Linked DNA regions of Homo sapiens: region 1 is linked to region 2. Evidence: fine-mapped expression QTL. Tissue or cell type: whole blood. Region 2 holds a variant in brackets; the other region holds the start of a gene. All regions are shown on one strand. Distances are from middle to middle.

Region 1 (9,932 bases), 65 kb before region 2:
CCCACCTCGGCCTCCCAAAGTGCTGGGATTACACGCGTGAGCCACCACGCCGGGCCAAACACTCCTGATTTTAATACATCATGCCATAGGATGAAGTTAATTTTTAGCTCCGTTGAGAGGAAACAACTACCATCCTGCCGCATAGTAGAGAGTCTGGAGAAAAACAGTGTCAGCTGAAACCTCTACTTTCTTTAATTTCATTAAAAAATTGATCTCATTGATGCCATCAACTGTGCTTCTGGGTAAAGTCGCTGGTTCACATTTTCAGTTTCAATTTCCCTTGCTTCTCTTGCTTCAGTTTCAGTAGCAACAGGAAGTTTGGGTAATTCTATATCATTTAAATGTGAAGAGGAAGAAAGAAAACCCTTTATAAACACATCCTGATGAGTGAGTGTCAGAAAATTCTATGCAGAGACGTGGAGTAATCAAAGAGCAAATTCAGAAAATATTCTCTAAGTTTAGGATTTGTAGACTACTGAATTATAAATTTATACTGATTAATACATAGCAAAGGTTACATTAATATATTAAATCATGAATTTATATTATCTTGAGGTGATTGACCCTATGAGGTCACTTATAAATTGATTTTATGAGCACATAACACTTTATCTCTTTCCACCCTCTAAGTCTGTATATTATTAAAATACAGAAGACTAGACTTGATGTGTTTCAAAACTTCAGGCGCAGGTTAAGTTCCACCACTCAGTTCTGCTTCACTTGTTCTCACTCTGAGTCACTCAACCTCTGAACACGTTTTTCATTTGGTCAACTTATTTGAGCATTTGTCCAAGTAGCCTGAGTGGGTCTAAGTATAAGACATGAAATAAAGAGCTTGACATGGCAGAGACTGTCAGACTTTCAGAGAGAAAAAACAGTTTACTTAAGAATCTCAGAAATAGCTGGTCATGTCTAAGTTAGGGTCCCTAAGAAAATACAGGTGATTTCACTTTGTATTTCCCCCATTCCTTTCCCCCTTCCATTTCCGAAATTTGGTATTTTGAAAAGGATGAAGATCGATTTGGAAGTAGCTTACTTTAAAAAGGAACATAGTAACAGGAAATTGTAAAGTAACATTCTGTTAGGTTTCAAGGCTGATTTGTGTTAACAAGCTGACCACAGCCCTAAGACATGCTTGAAACCCTTAGTGCAGGGAGACAAAATAGGAACAGGGCTGAGCCTGATGCGGCCTCATTTGGGTTTGGTTGTTGCTGCCCCACTTGTAAAAACAATACAGACTGCGAAATAGACAGTCGTCCCTCAGTATCCTTGGGGTACTGGTTCCAGGACCCCCTCTGATACCAAAACCCATGGATGTTTAAATCTCTTATATAAAATGGTATAGTATTTGCATATAACCTATGCTTATCCTCTTGCATACTTTAAATCATCTCTATAATACCTAATACGAATGCTATGGAAATAACAGTTATACTGTATTGTTTATATTTTTGTCATATTATTTTTTATTGAATATTTTTGATCCACGATTGGCTGAATTCATGGATGTGGAACCCACAGATATGAAGGGCCTGATTGTACTAACTGATACCAGATCATTAGGCAATTCTCTTACTGGGGCTGCAGATCCAAAATCCAGACCACGTTTCTCTGAGTAAAGGTGTAATTTCCTCTGAAAAGACTAAATGTTTTCACTGCCAGTTTCCCAGGGGAGAGGTTGGTTCAGCAGGAATTTTGGGAGGAGGGTGTCCAGAGTGTTAGGTGAGTGGAAACCTTCCTCATTTCTTTTAGTGCAGATGTCAATTTGGCTCCAATTCTAAAGAAGTGCTGATAACTGAAGGTTTCTAGTGGGGTAGCTGAACTACCTTTGGTGACCTGGAAACAGGTAGCAAAGAGGGCAGAGCAGTAGCCTGGTAAGGGTGGAGAGGATTCCACTGGAGCTTGGCCGCTCTCATAAAGTACTATCTGGACCCTTTCTTTCATTATTCTGGAACGGTCAGGAAAGTCTGGTCTCTACTGTGGGCAACAAAGAGGAAAATAAGTCTTTTCCCCAGGGTCAAACAAGATGACAGAAGTCACCAGCAGAAGATGGTAGTGCCCACTGAAGCAGCAAGTTAACTGGAGTCACTGTCCCTAGGAGGCAGCCCAGGAATGGGCAAGAGGGCAACCCATTTCTGGGTACACATTACACTGTACCCTGGGAACCGCTGAGGATCACGAGGGGCATATTTTAAGGGTGGCTATTTCTGCCAGTAATGCTGGAAAGCATTCATGGCATAATGCCATGATATGTAGCAGAATCCACCACAGTGTCTGTACGAAATGTTTAAGTAGGTAATTCATTCTGTCAGTTATTAAGTGTTATGAATCTGAAATCATTAAAACAATGTACTGCACAAGAAATAGGCAGATAAGCAGACCAGAATACAGTTTATACACAAACCGATAATGAAATATCATGGGGTAATGGTGATTTAAAATAAATGTTGAAAGAAAGGATCGTCAAATAAAGTGTATTACAACAAACGGGTAGCCATTTTCCTACCTCACTCCATATAAGAAAATAAATTCTGGAGGGATCAAAAATATAAACACAAAAAATGAAACTATGAAAGTAAGAGGAAAACATAAGCATATTATAAATAAACCTTGGTGTGAGCAAGACACACAATTCAATAGCCCTAAGAAAAGATTAATTGGTTTGTGTGGGGAAAAAACAAGTACGAAATAATCATAACAGTTCTAATACATATAAATAAACCAATATTCAGAGAGTTTATAAAAATTTTTAAAAACCCTAGTAATTCAATATTAAAAACTGGCGAAGATGAAATGCAAATTACCAATGTATAAAAAAAACTCAAACCTTAAGTACAAATCAACAATTATCAGATATTAATGCAGTGATAAAACTAGTAAGTTCAATAATCAAAAACTTTGGTAAAAGGGGCAGGAAAATATACTCGCAAATGTTGAGTAGTAGTATAAGGTAGTACAGTACAGTTTAAGAAGGCAATTTGGCAGTATCTATGAATATTTAAATGCATACATTCTTTATCTCAGCAATTACTTGCTAGGAACTTATCCTATGGCTGTACCCACACAATCATTTCAAGGATGTTCAGTGCAGCAATAATTATAATAAAAGTATCCAACTCAATTATCAATAGAGGAATGGCTTAAAAATTGTGGCACATCCATACAGAGATCTAGTTAACTATTAAAAAGAATTATCTCTAAGTTATTAAACAGTAAGCAGAAAAGGCAAGGAGCAGAATGATGTGTTTAGTTTGGAAATGAGTACAGTTCTGTTATTTTCTGTTTATGGCTGGACAAAGGGACTGCTGGGTGGGGCTGTAGCAGATTATAGCTTTTCATTTTATATTCATTCTCTTTTACCAAGCACATACATTACCTTTGTATAAAAACTTAAAAATATTTTTAACAGGAAAGACATTATCCTCAAACCATGCAGTAATGCCCAACTTGAATATATTTATTCAAGATCTAAGGAAGGAAATTTCAGGGGTACTGGAGTTATTGAAAAATAAACCTAAAAACATGCCAATGAAAGAAAATGGCTGTGGGTCTCAGAAAAAAATGGTACACTGACTGCACCTGGGAAAAAACTGGAACTCTCGAAGAATTGAAGTTAACTGGGCTTTGGCAAATTTGTGAATATATCGACTCTTTCACATGAAGTTGTACCTGAGCCTTATTCTTTAAATCCAGTTCAAATGCCACAATTTCTTTGAAACTTCTCAGATCCCTAAACACTTAATATACAGTCCTCTTATAGTTCTTTGTAAATACCTCTATCATAGTCCTGAGGAGGCTATTTGTTCACTGGCATGTCAGCCCCCAACCCAAATGTGAGATCCTTCAGGCAAGCCTTAACCACAGGTTTCGCCCTCCTTTCTCTTCTATAGCTGACAAACCATGAGCCTGGTGAAAGTTTGTTGAATGGGTGATTTAATGACTGGAGGAAAAAAAAGAGCTGTTGCTTTTTTTGGATTTTAGGATAGAAAACTTGTAACTTGACATGTAAATTAATTATTAACTAACTCGACACAGTTTTCTCCTTACCAGTGTTAGGCACGACCCTACCTTTGTTTTGTCATCAGAGATCACTTGTTGCTTCAGTAACCAAGAGCACTGAGCTACACCAAGTGACAGTGCTTTGGAATGTCTAATGGTCACTGTAGAGAAAAGGAACCTGAGCTCTCCTCCCTAATAGCAAATACACACAATCTTCTGCCCACACTTGAGGTTTTGTTCTTTTTCTGGACTGTATTCTCCAACGTAAATGCGAGGTTTTTTGCCTGATGGTGTATGATACGTGGAGTTCAAATCAAGATTTTCTCAAGCAGAAAACCTGTTTAGGAGTCCCTCCATATCTATGAGAAAAGCATTTTGTTTAGAGGTCTCCATAAAAATGAAACAGAAGAAAGTAGGGGGCATATGGAGAACTTTTCTTCATAGTGAAAGGATGCTCACCATTTACTTCCTTTTAATTGATATATAATGTACATATTTATGGGGGAGAGAGTAATATTTTGATACATACAATGTATAGTAATCGTATAGTAACCTTTTTAAACTTTTTTGTTGTGGAGATGGAGTCTTGTTGCCCAGGGTGGACTTGAACTCCTGAGCTTCAGCCTTCTGGGTAGCTAGGACAACAGGCATGCAGCACTACACATGGCTTTGTTATTTAAAAAAAAAAATCCTATTATGTCCCAGGCACAATTGGAAACAAGACAGATTTGATCTCTGATAACAGTGCCTGGCAACTATTAGGATCGTTCCTAGAATCTATTTGCAAATGGTGGGAAAAGGCAGGGACCAAATATGTGAGTTCTATCTAGCAGTACAATGGGTCAAAGAAAAACAGAAAGAATGAATAAGATCTAGTATTTGATAGCACAATAGGGTGACTATAGTCAATAATTTAATTGTGTATTTAAAAATAACTAAAAGAGTATAATTGGATTGTTTGTAACACAAAGGATAAATATTTGAGGGGATGGATACTCCATTTTCTATGATGTGATTATTACTTGTTGCATGGCTGTATCAAAGTGTCTCATGAACCCTATAAATACGTACACCTACTATGTACCCACAAAAAATTTTGTTAAAGTACATAGCTCAGGTTGTTCAGGGAAGATAAGAAATTGCATTTAGTACAAAGACCACTAACCTGGGAGTCAGGAAAATTGAGTTCTGTTGCCACTTCTGGCATTATTTGTGTCATTTTTCTAAACTTTAACATCTCTAGATCTGTTTCTGAATCTTTCAAACGAGGCGTTAGAACATCTTTAAGCTCTAGAAATCAGTAGTCCTATATTTTTATGTGGGAAAGGGCTCAGTGTCTTCTATTTCCATGAATAAGAGAATAAGACTTAAGCCAGAACAGATCTAAGAAAGATATGAAAATAATCTGACACAAGGATTTGAGAATAAATAGTAACTTCCGAGTACTCTTCACCCTTGGAGTAGAAGGAGAGAAGGATGCTAAGACGGGTCCACATGAGGCTGCTGGTCCTTTGTATGGGTCAACTATTTACCACTCTTGAAGATGGATACCTCCTTCATCTACCCTCATTATGAACTAGTTCAGCAGTCTTTATACCCTTGATTGAAGAAAGTAATTTCTTATGGCAAGATAAAAGAATCCAAATCAGCTTTGAGATCTTTCCAGCTCATGTGTGTACCTGCTTACCTCTACTGCTGCTTAAGAATGTCTGTGGACATTCTTCACCACTGGTTGTAAAAACCCTAGGGAGCCAGGGCCAACAGCTTTTTTTTCCCACTTTACTTCTCTAAACTGTGACAGTATAAACATGATTTTTTAAAAGTTCAAAAAGGAAAACAGTGAATTATTGAATTTCTTTCCAATCCTAGTACCCTTCCCCAAAGGTACTGCCAACAGTTTTTGTATATTCATACATTTATAAGTTAAATCATATTTTTCCTTATTTGACATCATATCTATGTTTGGTCTTAATTCTGTCATCTATTGTAAATTCTCCCTTTAGCTCTCTTATATGGCCTGTGTTATCTTTAATTTTGTGTTTTCATTTTAATAGTTATCAGGCTTACAGTTTTGGTGATTACCTTCATAACTATTCAGAATATTACATCCCTATTTCTTGATATATTATCAATTTTACAAAATTTCTATTCTGAAAAGTAAAACCAATTAGGGCATGTATATATTACCTCGTCTTTGATATTCTATTTTCTAACTTGTTAATCATCTTTTCTATATCAAGATTTATAACATTTCAATATGCTTCCATAGCCTTATTTAAATAATTCTATAGCTACATAGTTAAATAATTAACCACCACCAGTCCTGTTCTCAATGTTTGTCCATTTATCTCTTTAGATGGGCTTCATCATCTAGATTTTTCAAGAAGTGTCCACCCTCACTCTTTCAATTTACCCTTCCATTTGAAATCACTTGGCTTCTTCCTCCCCCAAGAATCTGGTAGAGTTTGCTTCACTCTGCTTTAGCACTGAATGTTGCTACAGAGAAGCCTAAGTCCAGTCCGTTCTTCCTCTCTCCATCTCCCCCTCCCAAAGAAATCACTCAATTTTGTTGCTGCTAAGATGACATTCCCCTCTCCCTGCCCCCAGGACAATTTGCAGATTTTGGCCACATCAAGAGCAACTGTATTTTTTTGAAATTATAATGTTAAAATTAGCATTTGTTACACGATCTCACTTTAATAAAACCATTTCTATCTATTTAGCTTCCTATCCAATTTATATTTATGCATTAATTGGAATTACTTTGGGGGGTGGTGGGGTTTGGGGTCCTTTAAAAATTTTCATCTTTGAAATGGTCATCTGCAATGAATGTTTAAGTTTTTTTTAAAATAATGGAGCTTATCACTTTTTCAATGGAAAGATGACTTATCTAGTAAAAGCTGGTAGTAAATACACAAGATACAATGATGCGTACTTTTTTGTACGTTTTGAAGAAAAACTAACACAAAAGAAAAATGTTAAATGTTTAAAAAGAGGAAACAATTTCTCAAACACCTCCTCTTGATTCTGACAACTTGGGTGGGTTAATGGGCTTATGTCATAGAAATGGCATTTTCCCCCCTCCATATCAGGACACTTCATAAACTTTAACAAGAAGAATAAGCCAGAAGTTTTCTTAGCAATATGAATTAAGAGTATAAAAGCCATTGAATGATGTGGATGGAAGTTTTTACATGGTTATGGCTGCATATGGAAATGAAATGATTTAAATTGGCCCCTTTCGAGAAGAGTCTCTTGCTTCACACACTCCATTCTTTCTTCTATGTAGCATCTGGTACTTTCAGTTCCCCTTTTGTGTAAAGTGCTGGAGGTTAACAAAATACAGTAGTTCCCCCTTAACCACGGGGGGATACATACCAAGATCCCCAGTAGAAGCCTGAAACAGTGGATAGTATAATCCATCCACCAGGATTGTAGTAAGAATTACATGGGATAATGCAATGTAAAACAATTAGCACACTGCCTGAGAGTATAACTCTACTGCACACAACTACTTTTTTGGGTACTTTGCTTCTAATAGAAGGTGAGTTCCTTGACAGCAACAAATATAATTTGCCACTTTATCCCTATTATCTAGCTCAATACTTTTAGTAGGCACTCAAATGTTGGTTAAATGATTTGGAGCTAAATTGTCTGGCGTTTAGGTAAGGAATAGCAATTTTTTAAAAAGGGAATACATGCTAGGTCAGGCTGTGGAAGGTCACATAATCTGAGGTTATATTCATTTTATTCAACAGGTCATAGTGACCATTTTTAAGATGTGAGAGAGGACTGCCTTAATACTGAACACTGAAATCTTTTATCTATAAAGATTAAGTTTTTCTCCCCACTGGTTTTCAGGTATTTAAGCACCCATATTTTCACTGAGTAGGTTCTAGAAGGAAACATTTCCTTAAGAAAGAGGAAACTGCAGGATAATGTGGGCATCGATTCTTTGAGTGCTATCTCTTCTTTCTTTCAGCAACTTCTAGGCTGGTGAGAGGGAACTGAGGTTCACAAAAGATACACAATTTTTTAAAAAGTCTTAAACACATCCATTTTGATAGAAAATAGAGGCAGCCGGGCATGGTGGCTCATGCATATAATCCCAACACTCTGGGAGGCCAAACTGTTTAAAGACCAGCCTGGGCAACACAATATGACCCTGTCCCTACTTAAAAAAAAAAAAAAAGAATGGGGGCAATAAAAAGTCTTAAGAAACTAAAGACTTGCTGCTGCCAATCAGAAGAAAAAGAAAGGGTAAAAGAAAAAAACATGGAATGAGAGATGAGTAGGAGAAGGTTCCAAGAGCTATAAATTCAAAGGCCAAAAAAGAGAGAAATTCCGTCAGGCAAGTAGGTTTGTAAAAATTACTTTAAAAATCAGGAATTATATCTGTGGCCAATTATTCTAAACACATAGTTACCTTCACTTCATCAAATAAACCACTTATTATATAAACCTAATCAACATGAAAATGCAGTGGTTTTAATACTTCAATTACATTAAAAATCCAGTTATTAAAATATAATCATAACCATCCTTTTTCTTTGTCTCTGACATATACATACCCACACTCACCTACCCACACCCCACCAAAAAGTATAAAAACAAGGAAGAGAGTCATGTGTAGAACTAAAGGAAAAGTTGCATATTACTTCTCTTCCAAACCTATGTTCTGGATTTTATCACCACCTTTCCACAATCTAACAATTAGACAAGAAAATTAATAAGAATGAACTGTTAGAGGTATAGAAGGGGAGACAATGCAGTTTAGGTAGTTCTATGAAAAAAAATTGAAGCTTATGAAAGTCAAAAACTGATTAGTTGTAAAAATGAAGACACTGTACCCAAATTAGTTCTACGATAGCACATCATTCGGCAGTTCTAGAAATGAAGTACTGTTAATCTTTCACTAGGCATTCATTAGAAAAGCCAAAGAGCCTAAGTTCTAGGATTGAATCTCATTTTTTAAAATATGAGTATTTTGTTATTTCAAAGTAAGCTGTTGTATTAACCTGCACTATACAGGGGCAATATATAAGAAAGTATATAATGCCCTGGACAAATTTTCAGTCCTGGAGAAAAGCAATATTGATAATAATACAAGAAACACTAGCACATTTTGTAGAAGAAATGCAACACAGAGACAGTTTTAAGTTCTAGGCAGCAATACAAAATGCGTTAATTAGTAATAAACTCATGGCAAAACAAAGTTCACTTCTGTTTTACTAATACAGATGCATCTGGAGAATGCCAATGTTGCTGAACTCATTCAACTTTAGTAGTTAAATGTTAGTTCATTCTTAACCACTAAAAAAATTTCCCTTGAACAATCCATATTGTCAGCATTATTAGACTTTAAGACGACCACTATGTTGAGCTCTGTAGAGTACTTCCCTTTAACAAGGAGATAAATTCAGCAAGAATCTTCTTGTATGCTTTCCAGTACTATGAAGTCATACCTTTGGAAAACTTAAAATAGGTTTAATTGTATATATTTAGGTAAATATATCTACTTTCCAATGACTTAACAATTATCAGTACAGCTGGTTGGAAAATATTTAGCTGTCTGAATATGTTAAATTATACAACTCTACTACTAAAGTAGTATGAAGTGGTATTTATCTCCTCAGCTTTTCTAAAGCTGTCTAATCCAAATAACAGTGTGTATGCATGCTTGCGTGTGCACACACACATGCTAATAACATACTGGGTAGCAGATTACTGAAAAATCAAGACATATAGGCTAGACTCAAGGGCCTTATGGAATTTGTAACTGTTTGCCCAGAAAGAGATAAAATACTAGGTCTATTTTTATTCATATTCTGAAACTCCCAGACAAATCTATCAATACACCTGAGCTCTGGATGAAGTATGCCTAAAAACACAAAGTTTTTTAGCCTATAGTGTACATTTCAGTAAGCCTTCAC
Region 2 (9,932 bases):
CCTTAAGGTAATAAAAGCCATCTATGACAAACCTACAGCTAACATTATACTGAATGGAGAAAGGTTGAAAGCATTTCCCCTGAGATCTGGAACAAGACAGGGATGCCCAGTCTCACTACTTCTATTCAACATAGTACTGGAAGTCCTAGCCAGAGGGATCAGACAAGACAAGGAAATAAAGGGCATCAAATCAGTAAAGAGGAAGTCGAACTGTTGCTGTTTGCTGATGATATGATCATACACCAAGAAAACCCTAAAGATTCATCCAAAAAGCTCCTAGAACTGGCAAATGAATTCAGTAAAGTTTCAGGACACAAAATTAATGTACACAAATCGGTGGCATTGCTATACACTAACAGCAACCAAGCTGCAAATCAAATCAAGAACTCAAACTCTTTTACTATGTCTGCAAAAAAAAAATAAAATACTTAGGAATATACCTAAGGAAGTGAAAGACATCTACAAGAAAAACTACAAAACACTGCTGAAAGAAATTGAAAATGACACAAACAAATGGAAACACATTCCATGCTCATGGATGGGTAGAATCAATATTGTGAAAATGATCATACTGCCAAAAGCAATCTACGGATTCAATGTAATTCCTATCAAAATGTCACCATCATTCTTTGCAGAGCTAGGGAGAACAATCCTAAAATTCATATGAAACTGAAAAGGAACACACATAGCCAAATCAAGACTCAGCAAAAACAAAAACAACCCCCCAAAACCCACAAATCTGGATGTATCACATTACCCGACTTCAAACTAAACTAAAAGGCTATAGTTACCGAAACAGCATGGTACTGGTATAAAAATAGGCACATAGACCAATGAAACAGAATACAGAACCCAGAAATAAAGCCAAATACTTAACAGCCAACTGATCTTTGACAAAGCAAACACAAACGTAAAGTGGGGAAAGGACACCCTATTCAACAGATGGTACTGGGGTAACTGGCAAGCCACATGTAGAAGAATGAAACTGGATCCTCATCTCTCACCTTACACAAAAATGAACTCAAGATTAGATCAAAGACTTAAATCTTTTAAGACCTGAAACCATAAAAGTCCCAGAAGATATCATCAGAAAAACCCTTCTAGACATTGGCTTAGGCAAAGACTTCCTGACCATGAACCCAAAAACAAATTCAACAAAAACAAAGACAAATAGATGGGACTTAATTAAACTAAAAAGATTCTGCACAGCAAAGGAAATAATCAGTAAACAGACAACCCACAGAGTGGAGAAAATCTTGGTAAACTATGCATCTGACAAAGGTCTAATATCCAGAATCTACAAAAAAACCAAACAAATCAGCAAGAAAAAAAACAAACAATCCCATCAAAAAGTGGGCTAAGGACATGAATAGACAATTCCCAAAAGAAGATATACAAGTGTTCAACAAACATATGAAAACATGTTCAACACAACTAATTATCAGGGAAATGCAAATCAAAACCACAATGCAATACCACCTTACTCCTGCAAGAATGGCCATAATCAAAAAATCAAAAAATAATAGATGTTGGCATCAATGTGGTAAAAAGGGAAAACTTTTACACTGCTGCTGGGAATGTAAACTAGTATAACCACTATGGAAAATGGTGTGGAGATTCCTTAAGGAACCAAAAGTAGATCTAACATTTGACCCAGCAATCCCACTACTGGGTATCTACCCAGAGAAAAAGAAGTCATTATACGAAAAACACACTTGAACACACATTTATAGCAACACAATTTGTAACTGCAAAAATATGGAATCAACCCAAATGCCCATCAATCAACAAGTGGATAAAGAAAATGTGGTATGTATAATATACACACACACACACCACGGAATACTACTCAGCCATAAAAAATAATGAAATAATGGCATTCACAGCAACCTGGATGGAGGTGGAGACCATTATTCTAAGTAAAGTAACTCAGGAATGGAAAACCAAACATTGTAAGTTGTCACTCATAAATGGGAACTAAGCTATGAGGATGCAAAGGCATAGAATGATACAATGGACTTTGGGAACTTGAAGTAAAGGGTGGGAGGGGGTGAGGGATAAATGACTACACATTGGGTACTGTGTACACTGCTTGGGTGAGGGGTGCACCCAAATCTCAAAAATCATTACCAAAAAACATATCCATGTAACCCAACACCACCTGTTCCCCAAAAGCCTATTGAAATAAAAAAAAAAGAAGAAAAAGTAACTCAAAATGGATCAAAGACCTAAATATAAGACCTAAAACTATAAAATTCTTAGAACATTGAACAAAAGAGCTTCATGACATTATATTTGGCAATGATTTCTTGGATGTGACAACAAAGGCAGAGTCACTGAAAGAAAATATTGGCAAATTAGATTTGATGAAAAATTTTTAAATTTGTGCACCAGAAGACCCTATCAACAGTAAAAGGCAAGCCACAGAATGGGTGAAAATACAGGCAAATCGTATTATCTGATAAGAGATTAGTATCCAAAATATATAGAAAATTCCTAAAACTCAAACAAAAAAAATCAACCTGATTCAACAATGTGCAAAAGACTCAAATACACATTTCTCCTAAGATACACAAATGGCCAATAAACAGATGAAAAGATACTCAACATCTCTAATCATTAGCAAAACAAATCAAGACTACAATGAGATGCTACCTTATACCCATAACAATGGTTACCATCAAAATTCAGAAAATTGTTAAGTGTTGAAGAGAATGTGGAGAAACTGGAACCCTTGTATACTATTGGTATGAAAGTAAAATGTTATTTCTGCTATGGAAAACAGTATGAAAATTCCTCAAAAAATTAAAAATAGAATTACCATATGATCCAGCAATTCCACTTCTGGATATATACCCAATGAGAGCAGGGTTTCAAGAAAGTATTTGTACACTCATGGTCATTGCAGCAGTATTCACAAGAGCTAAAATGTGAAGCAAACCACGTGTTCACTGAGGATGAATGAACAAGCAAAATGTATTTACATACAATGGAATAGTATTCAGCCTTGAAAAGTAAGGAAATTCTGATATATGCTACAAAATGAATGAATCTTGAGGACATTTTGCTAAATGAAATAAGCCAATCACAAAAGGACAAATAATGCACAATTCCACCTACATGAAGTACTTTAAAGTAGTGAAAAATCAGAGACAGAGTAGGCTTTTGGTTTCCAGGGCCTGTGGAAAGGTGAGAATGGAGAGCTATCGTTTAAACGGATATAGAGCTTCAGTTTTACAAAATAAAGAGTTCTGGAGATAAACAGCGGTGATGGTTGCACAACAATATAAATGTAGTTAATACCACTGATCTATAAACTTAAAAATGATTATGATGGTAAACTTTGTATGTATTTTACCAAAATTTTAAAAAGTTTGGAAAAAAAAAGGTATCAATGATAATGATGTTGATTTCCTCCGAATTAACCTGTATGTAAAGTAATCCCAGCTAAAACACAGGAAGATTTTAAAAAATTATATAACTTGGCAAAAAGTATTCTAAAACTTTGGACCAATAAACATGTGGGTGTAACTGGGAAATTCTGGAAAGGGGCATTGTGGGAAGGGGTGTACTAATCTGATCTGATCAATTTTAAGTTATAAAAAAGATTTTAAAAAATTAATGTGGCAAAAATTATTCTAAATGTTATCTGGAAAAATAGGTGAGTATCACTGGAAAACTCTTGAAAGGGGAACTGGGGAAGGGGAAGAGACAAAGTTTACTACATATAAAAATATATTACCTTAAAAAAGGTAATGAAAACAATTTGGTATTTATGCTGAACAAACTCTCAGTCTGTTTAAAAAAATGCATTTGTTAATACTAAAGACAATGTGCTGAGAAACTGTTCTCTACATCAGACTGTCAGAAACTATGTTATTTGAAATTTTATAAAGTGAGAATGGAACATCCCACTCTCGCACTGATGGTAGATCATTATGAAACAGAAGCAACCTCACTTTGCAACTCAGAGCTTCAGATAAGGGGTTTCCAGACACAACATTCCACATGTATCGCGATTTTGTAGTCTCCAGGGAATCAGAATCCTGAGTCAGCTTCTCAGCCCAGGCCTGATGTTTATTAACCCTTGACACACAGTCTTGCCGTGCTTTAAGCTTATCAAATATTGTTGCGTTTAAACTTT[A/G]TCCAAACTCCACCATTCTCCAAAATCCTATAATAACCCTGGTTCCTTCTTTAGAAATGCTGACATTTCCTCTGCTGTGCAAGTCTCCTTCACTGCAGCAAGCTAATTAACCTTTGTCAGCCTACAGATGTGTCCCTGGTGGTCTCTACCAGATGAATCTTATAAAGGGACTTCATCAGGTTGAAATAAAGACTCTATGGAAAACAAAAATTCATGTGGAAATTTAATACATAATAAACAGCATTTCAAATCAAGAAAAAGGTGGCTTATTGAAGAAATGGTATTGAATTAATTAATCTTTTGGGGAAAAAAAAACAAAACCAGCTGGATCCTTACTTTCTAGTAACAATTTCAAATGTTTCTAAGATTTCAGTATTTTAGAAAATGGAATTAAAACAAAACTGGAAGAAAATATATTTTTGCATTTTGATATTACGAATTGAGATCTCTCCCACACTCAGAAGCTGTGACTATTAAAACACTATGAGTTTATTCATTGGATAAACTTCTGGCAATGAAGTCGCTGGTTAAAGGGCATATTTCTTTATGAAATATATTTTTTTAATGTACAGCAAAAAGAACCAAAAAGTATCATAAATAATAAAAAAGATAGTTAACCAAATACAAAAACAGATAAAGAAAATAAAAGATTCACAGTAAAAAATGGTCAACGATGTTCAAATTTCACTCACAAAGGTAAATCAAATGAAGAGATATTATTTTTAACCTAACATATTGGCAAAACTTTTAAAGTTTATTAACAGCTGTTATTGACACAGATACAAGAAAACTGGTAGTCCTGTATTCTTTCTCATAATACATACTTTTACTGTCTTTTGGAAGGGCATTTCACAACATCTTTTTAAATTTTTAACTAATTATGCCTTGATATATCACTTCATGATCAGAAACTTATTTTACAGATATAATCATAGAAGTCAGCCAAGATGCTCGACAGCCATAACCATAAGACGTCTGTCTGTTGATGAGGAACCAGTTTTTTAAAAAAAAGATAGAGCCATAGCATAGAATAGTAGTAGCTGTTAAAAACAATGATCTACATGTGCTGATAGGGAAAATCTTTGTGCTTTTGACAAAGGTTACTTTTTATTGTTAATAAGGTATACTGGGTATTTTTTTAAACATCAGAAAATGTAAAGAAAACAAAAGGAACAAACCTAAACAAATGAAAGAAAATCATAGACAGAAAAGAGTAAATTTTCTTTACCATCTCTACCACTATCTCTCCCCAAAAGTAACTGCTTTCGTATCGTTGGGTAATGCCTATATCATCACATATGTATGTTCAGCTTTTAATTTACATCAGAGATCATGCTTATCGGTTAGTCTGCACTTTAATTTACCCCTTCACTTATTTTATCCATAACACAATGTCATTCATTTTAACAACTGTATAAGATAAAAGGTTTATTTTTTAAGACAATGTACCGAAATATTTTCTAGTATGATTTCACTTGGCTTTTTAAATGTTTCTGTATATATTTTAAAATCTGTTAAGATATATATACATATGATATTTAACAAGAGCTATCTCTGGGAACTAGCACTGGGTGGCATGAGCAAGGAAGGACAAATTTTTTTTTATTTTATAACCTTTTGATGTTTTAATTTTGCATCGGGTACACACATTACTTTTCTGATAAAAATTAAATAAAGGGAGGCAATTTTTATCTACAGAGTGAAATAATATGATAAAAATTAAAGTCCACTAATTTCTCCACACTTGTCAAACAAAATGATCTCTTGATCCTTTCAGACTTCTCCAAGTTTCAGATTCACATACACAAATGCCTGCTAAATACTTCCACCTGGACCATAGGCATCTCTAATTCAACACCTCCAAAGTGACTCATTACTTTCCTCTGCTCATTTTACCTTAATTACTGGTAATTACCTAAATTATTCACCAATGGGTTCCTATTTCACTCAGAGCCACAGGATTATCTAAACTACAAAGTACACAGATATTCTTAATGCTTCCCTTATCTTCACCCCAAATCCAATTACCAAGTCTTGCCAACATTACTTCCTAAATATTATTCTAATCCATTGTCTCCTCTCCATTTCTAGTATTTATCCTATTTCAGACTCTCCTCTCTCCCCACAGGCTATTACAATATCTAACCTCTCTGACTCAAGTGCTATCCCTCTTTAACTCATACCCCGTCACCAGAATGAGCTCTCTAAAATGAAAAGCTGACCATGTCACCCCATGAATCCTTTCACGGAACTCCACTGCCTACAAGACAAAAACTAAACATTTTTTATTAACATGATATATAAATAAAGGCTATGACCTAGAGCCTGTCCAGGTTTCCAGCCTCGTCTTTTGCTATTCTGTGCCTTATAATTTATGTCTGCTTCAGCAATCCTGAACTGTCTACAGTTACTGAAAGGTTCCCAATATGGTCAGCTCCTCTTCCTACTGTCTTCTCTGACTACAACACTTGCTTCCCACCAACCTCTGTAAATCCCATTAAACTAAGGTTTCTTAACCTTGGCGCTACTGACATTAAGAGCTGGATAACTCTCTGTTGTGGAAGCCGTCCGGTCCTCTGTAGGATATTTAGCCAGCATCCCTGGCCTTTACTCACTAGATGCCAGTAGTATTCCCCCTAGTTGTGACAAACAAAAATGTCTGTAGACATTGCTAAATGTTTCCAGGTAACAACCTCTCCACTAATTTGTTAAAACTGTTTCTCACATTTACATAAAAGATCTCCCCTGTCTCTACTAAAAATACAAAAAAAAAAAGAAATTAGCTGGGCATGGTGGCAGGTGCCTGTAGTCCCAGCTACTGGGGAGGCTGAGGCAGGAGAATGGCGTGAACCCAGGAGGCAGAGCTTGCAGTGAGCTGAGATCGCGCCACTGCACTCCAGCCTGGGCGACAGAGTGAGACTCCGTCTCAAAAAAAAAAAAATCTCAGGAAGAATAGAGATAAGACTACTTTTAACACTAATTGCCTTTGAGGAGGACAACTGGGTAACTGGAGTGGGATGAAAAAAACTTACTTTTCAAACCATTTACTGTGCGTTTTTAGTCTTGTACCTCTTCTGACTTCTCCACTGCTATCACCCTGGTCTGAGCAACCTCTCTGTCTTTTAACTACTCCAACAACATTCTAACCAACTTTCCCCTTCCTTTAGCCTTTGCTTCTTTGGCCCATTTTTACCAATAGCCACAATGATCCTTTTAAAACTGAAATCAGATCACATCACTCATTTGCTCAAAACCCTCCCGTCTTCCTAATCTTAGAGAGCCAAAACCTTACAAGGATCTACCCACAATCTGCATCCTACTCCACCCCTTTCTTTCTGATCTCTTCTCCCCAGTATTTGGTGTTTTTGTAGGTCAAAAATGAACAAACAGCAGCAATTTCATAGATTGAACCTAATACTAACTGCTTGTCATTCCTCAAACGTGCCAGGGTCTTCACACTTAACTGTTCTCTGCTAAGAACACGCACCCAGGTGCTCATATGGCTCACTCTCCAACTCCTTCAGGTCTTTACTTTTCAGGAGTCTTCACTGGCCACCCTATGCTTACCCACAGCACCTATTAATATCAAATATTATTTTACTTATTCATCTTGTTTACTGTCTCTTTTCCATCTTGATCAGTGGTTCTGAAACCTGAGTCTCCATCAGAATCATTTGGAAGGCTAGTTAAATAAAGAGTTCTGGGATGGAGCCTGAAAATTTCAATTTCTAACAACTTCCCAGGTGATGATGATGCTGCAGATCCAGGGACCACATTTTTAGAACCCGTGTTTCAGAATGTAAGCTCCATGAGGACAGAGATTTTTGCCTATCCACTGTTTTATCTCCAGGACCTGGCACATAGTAAGCACTTGCTGTGGTCTGAATGTTTGTCTCCTCCAAAACTCATGTTGAACCTTAATCACCACTGTGGCAGTATTGAGAGCTGGAGTCTTTAAATGGTGACTGGGTACTAAGGGTTCAGCCCTCATGAATGGGTTATCATGGGAAAGGAACTGGTAGCTTTACAAGAAAGAAAGAAAGAAAGAAAGAGTTCTGGGCTAGCATGCTCGGCCCCCTCACCATGTGGTGCCCTGTGCTATCCTCAGGACTCTGCAGAGTCCCTACCAGCAAATGCCCTCACCAGATGTGGCCCCCTGAACCAGGACTTTTCAGCCTTCCTAACTGTAAGGAATAAATTTCTTTTCTTTATAGATTATCCAGTTTCAGATATTCTGCTAGAGGCAACAGAAAACAGATTAAGACATCACTGATATATGTAAATAAATGTAAGTGTCCCATCCTGTTTCCACTATAGCCTCTGATTCAGTCTATAATGCTAAACATTTACTGAACGATGTAAAAGATAAACCGTGCAACTGTTACAGGTTAAACTGTGTCCCCACAAAAGATAGGTTGAAGTCCTAATTCCAGTACCTCTGCACGTGACCTTATTTCAAAATAGGGTCTTTGCAGATGTAATCAAGTTAAGATGAGGTGATTAGGGTGGATCTTAATCCAATACGACTAGTATCCTTGCAAGAAGTGGAGCACACCATCTGAAGACAGAGCCACACAGGGATTATGTTGTGATAACAGAGTCACAGACTGGAGTGACATAGCTGCAAGCCAAAAAATGCTAAGGATTGGCAGTAACACAACAAGCTAAGAGGCATGGAACAGATTCTCCCCTCGAACCTTGAGAGAGCATGGCCATACCTACATCTTGATTTCAGACATCTTGCCTCCAGAACTGAGACAATAAATCTGTTGTTTTAAATCACCCAGTTTGTCGTATTTTGTTACCGCAGCCCTAGAAAATACAATGACCAAGAATGCAAATAACTATGCCAAGCTGTATTTAATTTCAAATTCTGCCTATTATCCAACATCTAGCCGTTTAAATGTGCTTTAATATACAGGTTTCCCATTCCAGAATCTCCCTAATATTGCCTCTCGTTGCCCCCAACACGCCCCTTCAATGTGCAAGGCAGCACATACTACAGGTGCTAGATAATTTATTTAGACTTTCCTTTCAGTTTCCCCCACCTTCTTATGTGCTTCCCTAAATCACAAACACCAGTTTCTTTATATATTTTTTTTCTCCCTCTTCCTATTCTCACATATTACAGATTTTGGCATATATATTCCCCTTGGACATTTGAATTAGCTGCAAAATAATTTAAGTACACATTGGAGTTCCTCTCTAACCAGATTTTAAGATAAAAGGCTAACTTCTCATTTTATGGAACAAGTCTCCTTCCCGCTCCCCACCTTTCTTCTTTTAAAAGAATGACTTAATCCCACTGAATTTGAAGTAAAAAGATTTTTGTCATACCTTTCTTTCAGCCTTGCTATAGTTTGTACATCAGCGTCTTTAATCAAATCTTAAGAAATCTTCTAAAAGAAAAGATGGTTGTATTGGGAAGCTTAAACTTTTAAGCCTATCTGAATTTAATTTCAGCATCAAGCTTTCCATTTTCTACTTAAGGTTTATTTATAGCTGCACTGTCACAAAAATTCCAATCAATGATTTTACCACACAAAGACTCTAAATTACCATGGCTTATAATGTTAAACTGCATAATGCAATTTTAATTTTAGCACAAATCAATACACAAATAGTAGCATGTGCCTAGTGACATACTTTTTCATATTTCTATTAGGTAAACAAGAACTCATTATGTGTACCCTGAAATAAATTTGTGATACAATTTTAAGAATAACTGGATATTGAATTTACTCAACGTAGTCTAGTCTTAAAAAGCATAATTATGAAAAACTTTAAA

Evidence for each region.
Region 1: it holds the start of LINC03016, and the variant in region 2 is fine-mapped to the expression of LINC03016 in whole blood (INTERVAL, PIP 0.97). The same link has a PIP of 0.9 or more in neutrophils.

What each region holds. Positions count from the first base shown.
Region 1 is chr7:7,249,315-7,259,246 of GRCh38, reverse strand. It overlaps LINC03016 (long intergenic non-protein coding RNA 3016), which reads right to left and starts at 4,093. Exons shown (of 4, transcript NR_108073.1): 1 at 4,069-4,093.
Region 2 is chr7:7,184,408-7,194,339 of GRCh38, reverse strand. All of the region lies in intron 1 of C1GALT1 (core 1 synthase, glycoprotein-N-acetylgalactosamine 3-beta-galactosyltransferase 1), which reads right to left. Among named protein-coding and RNA genes, the nearest start is that of C1GALT1, 6.8 kb to the right of the region's middle. The variant A/G (reference allele first, on the strand shown) is at 4,145.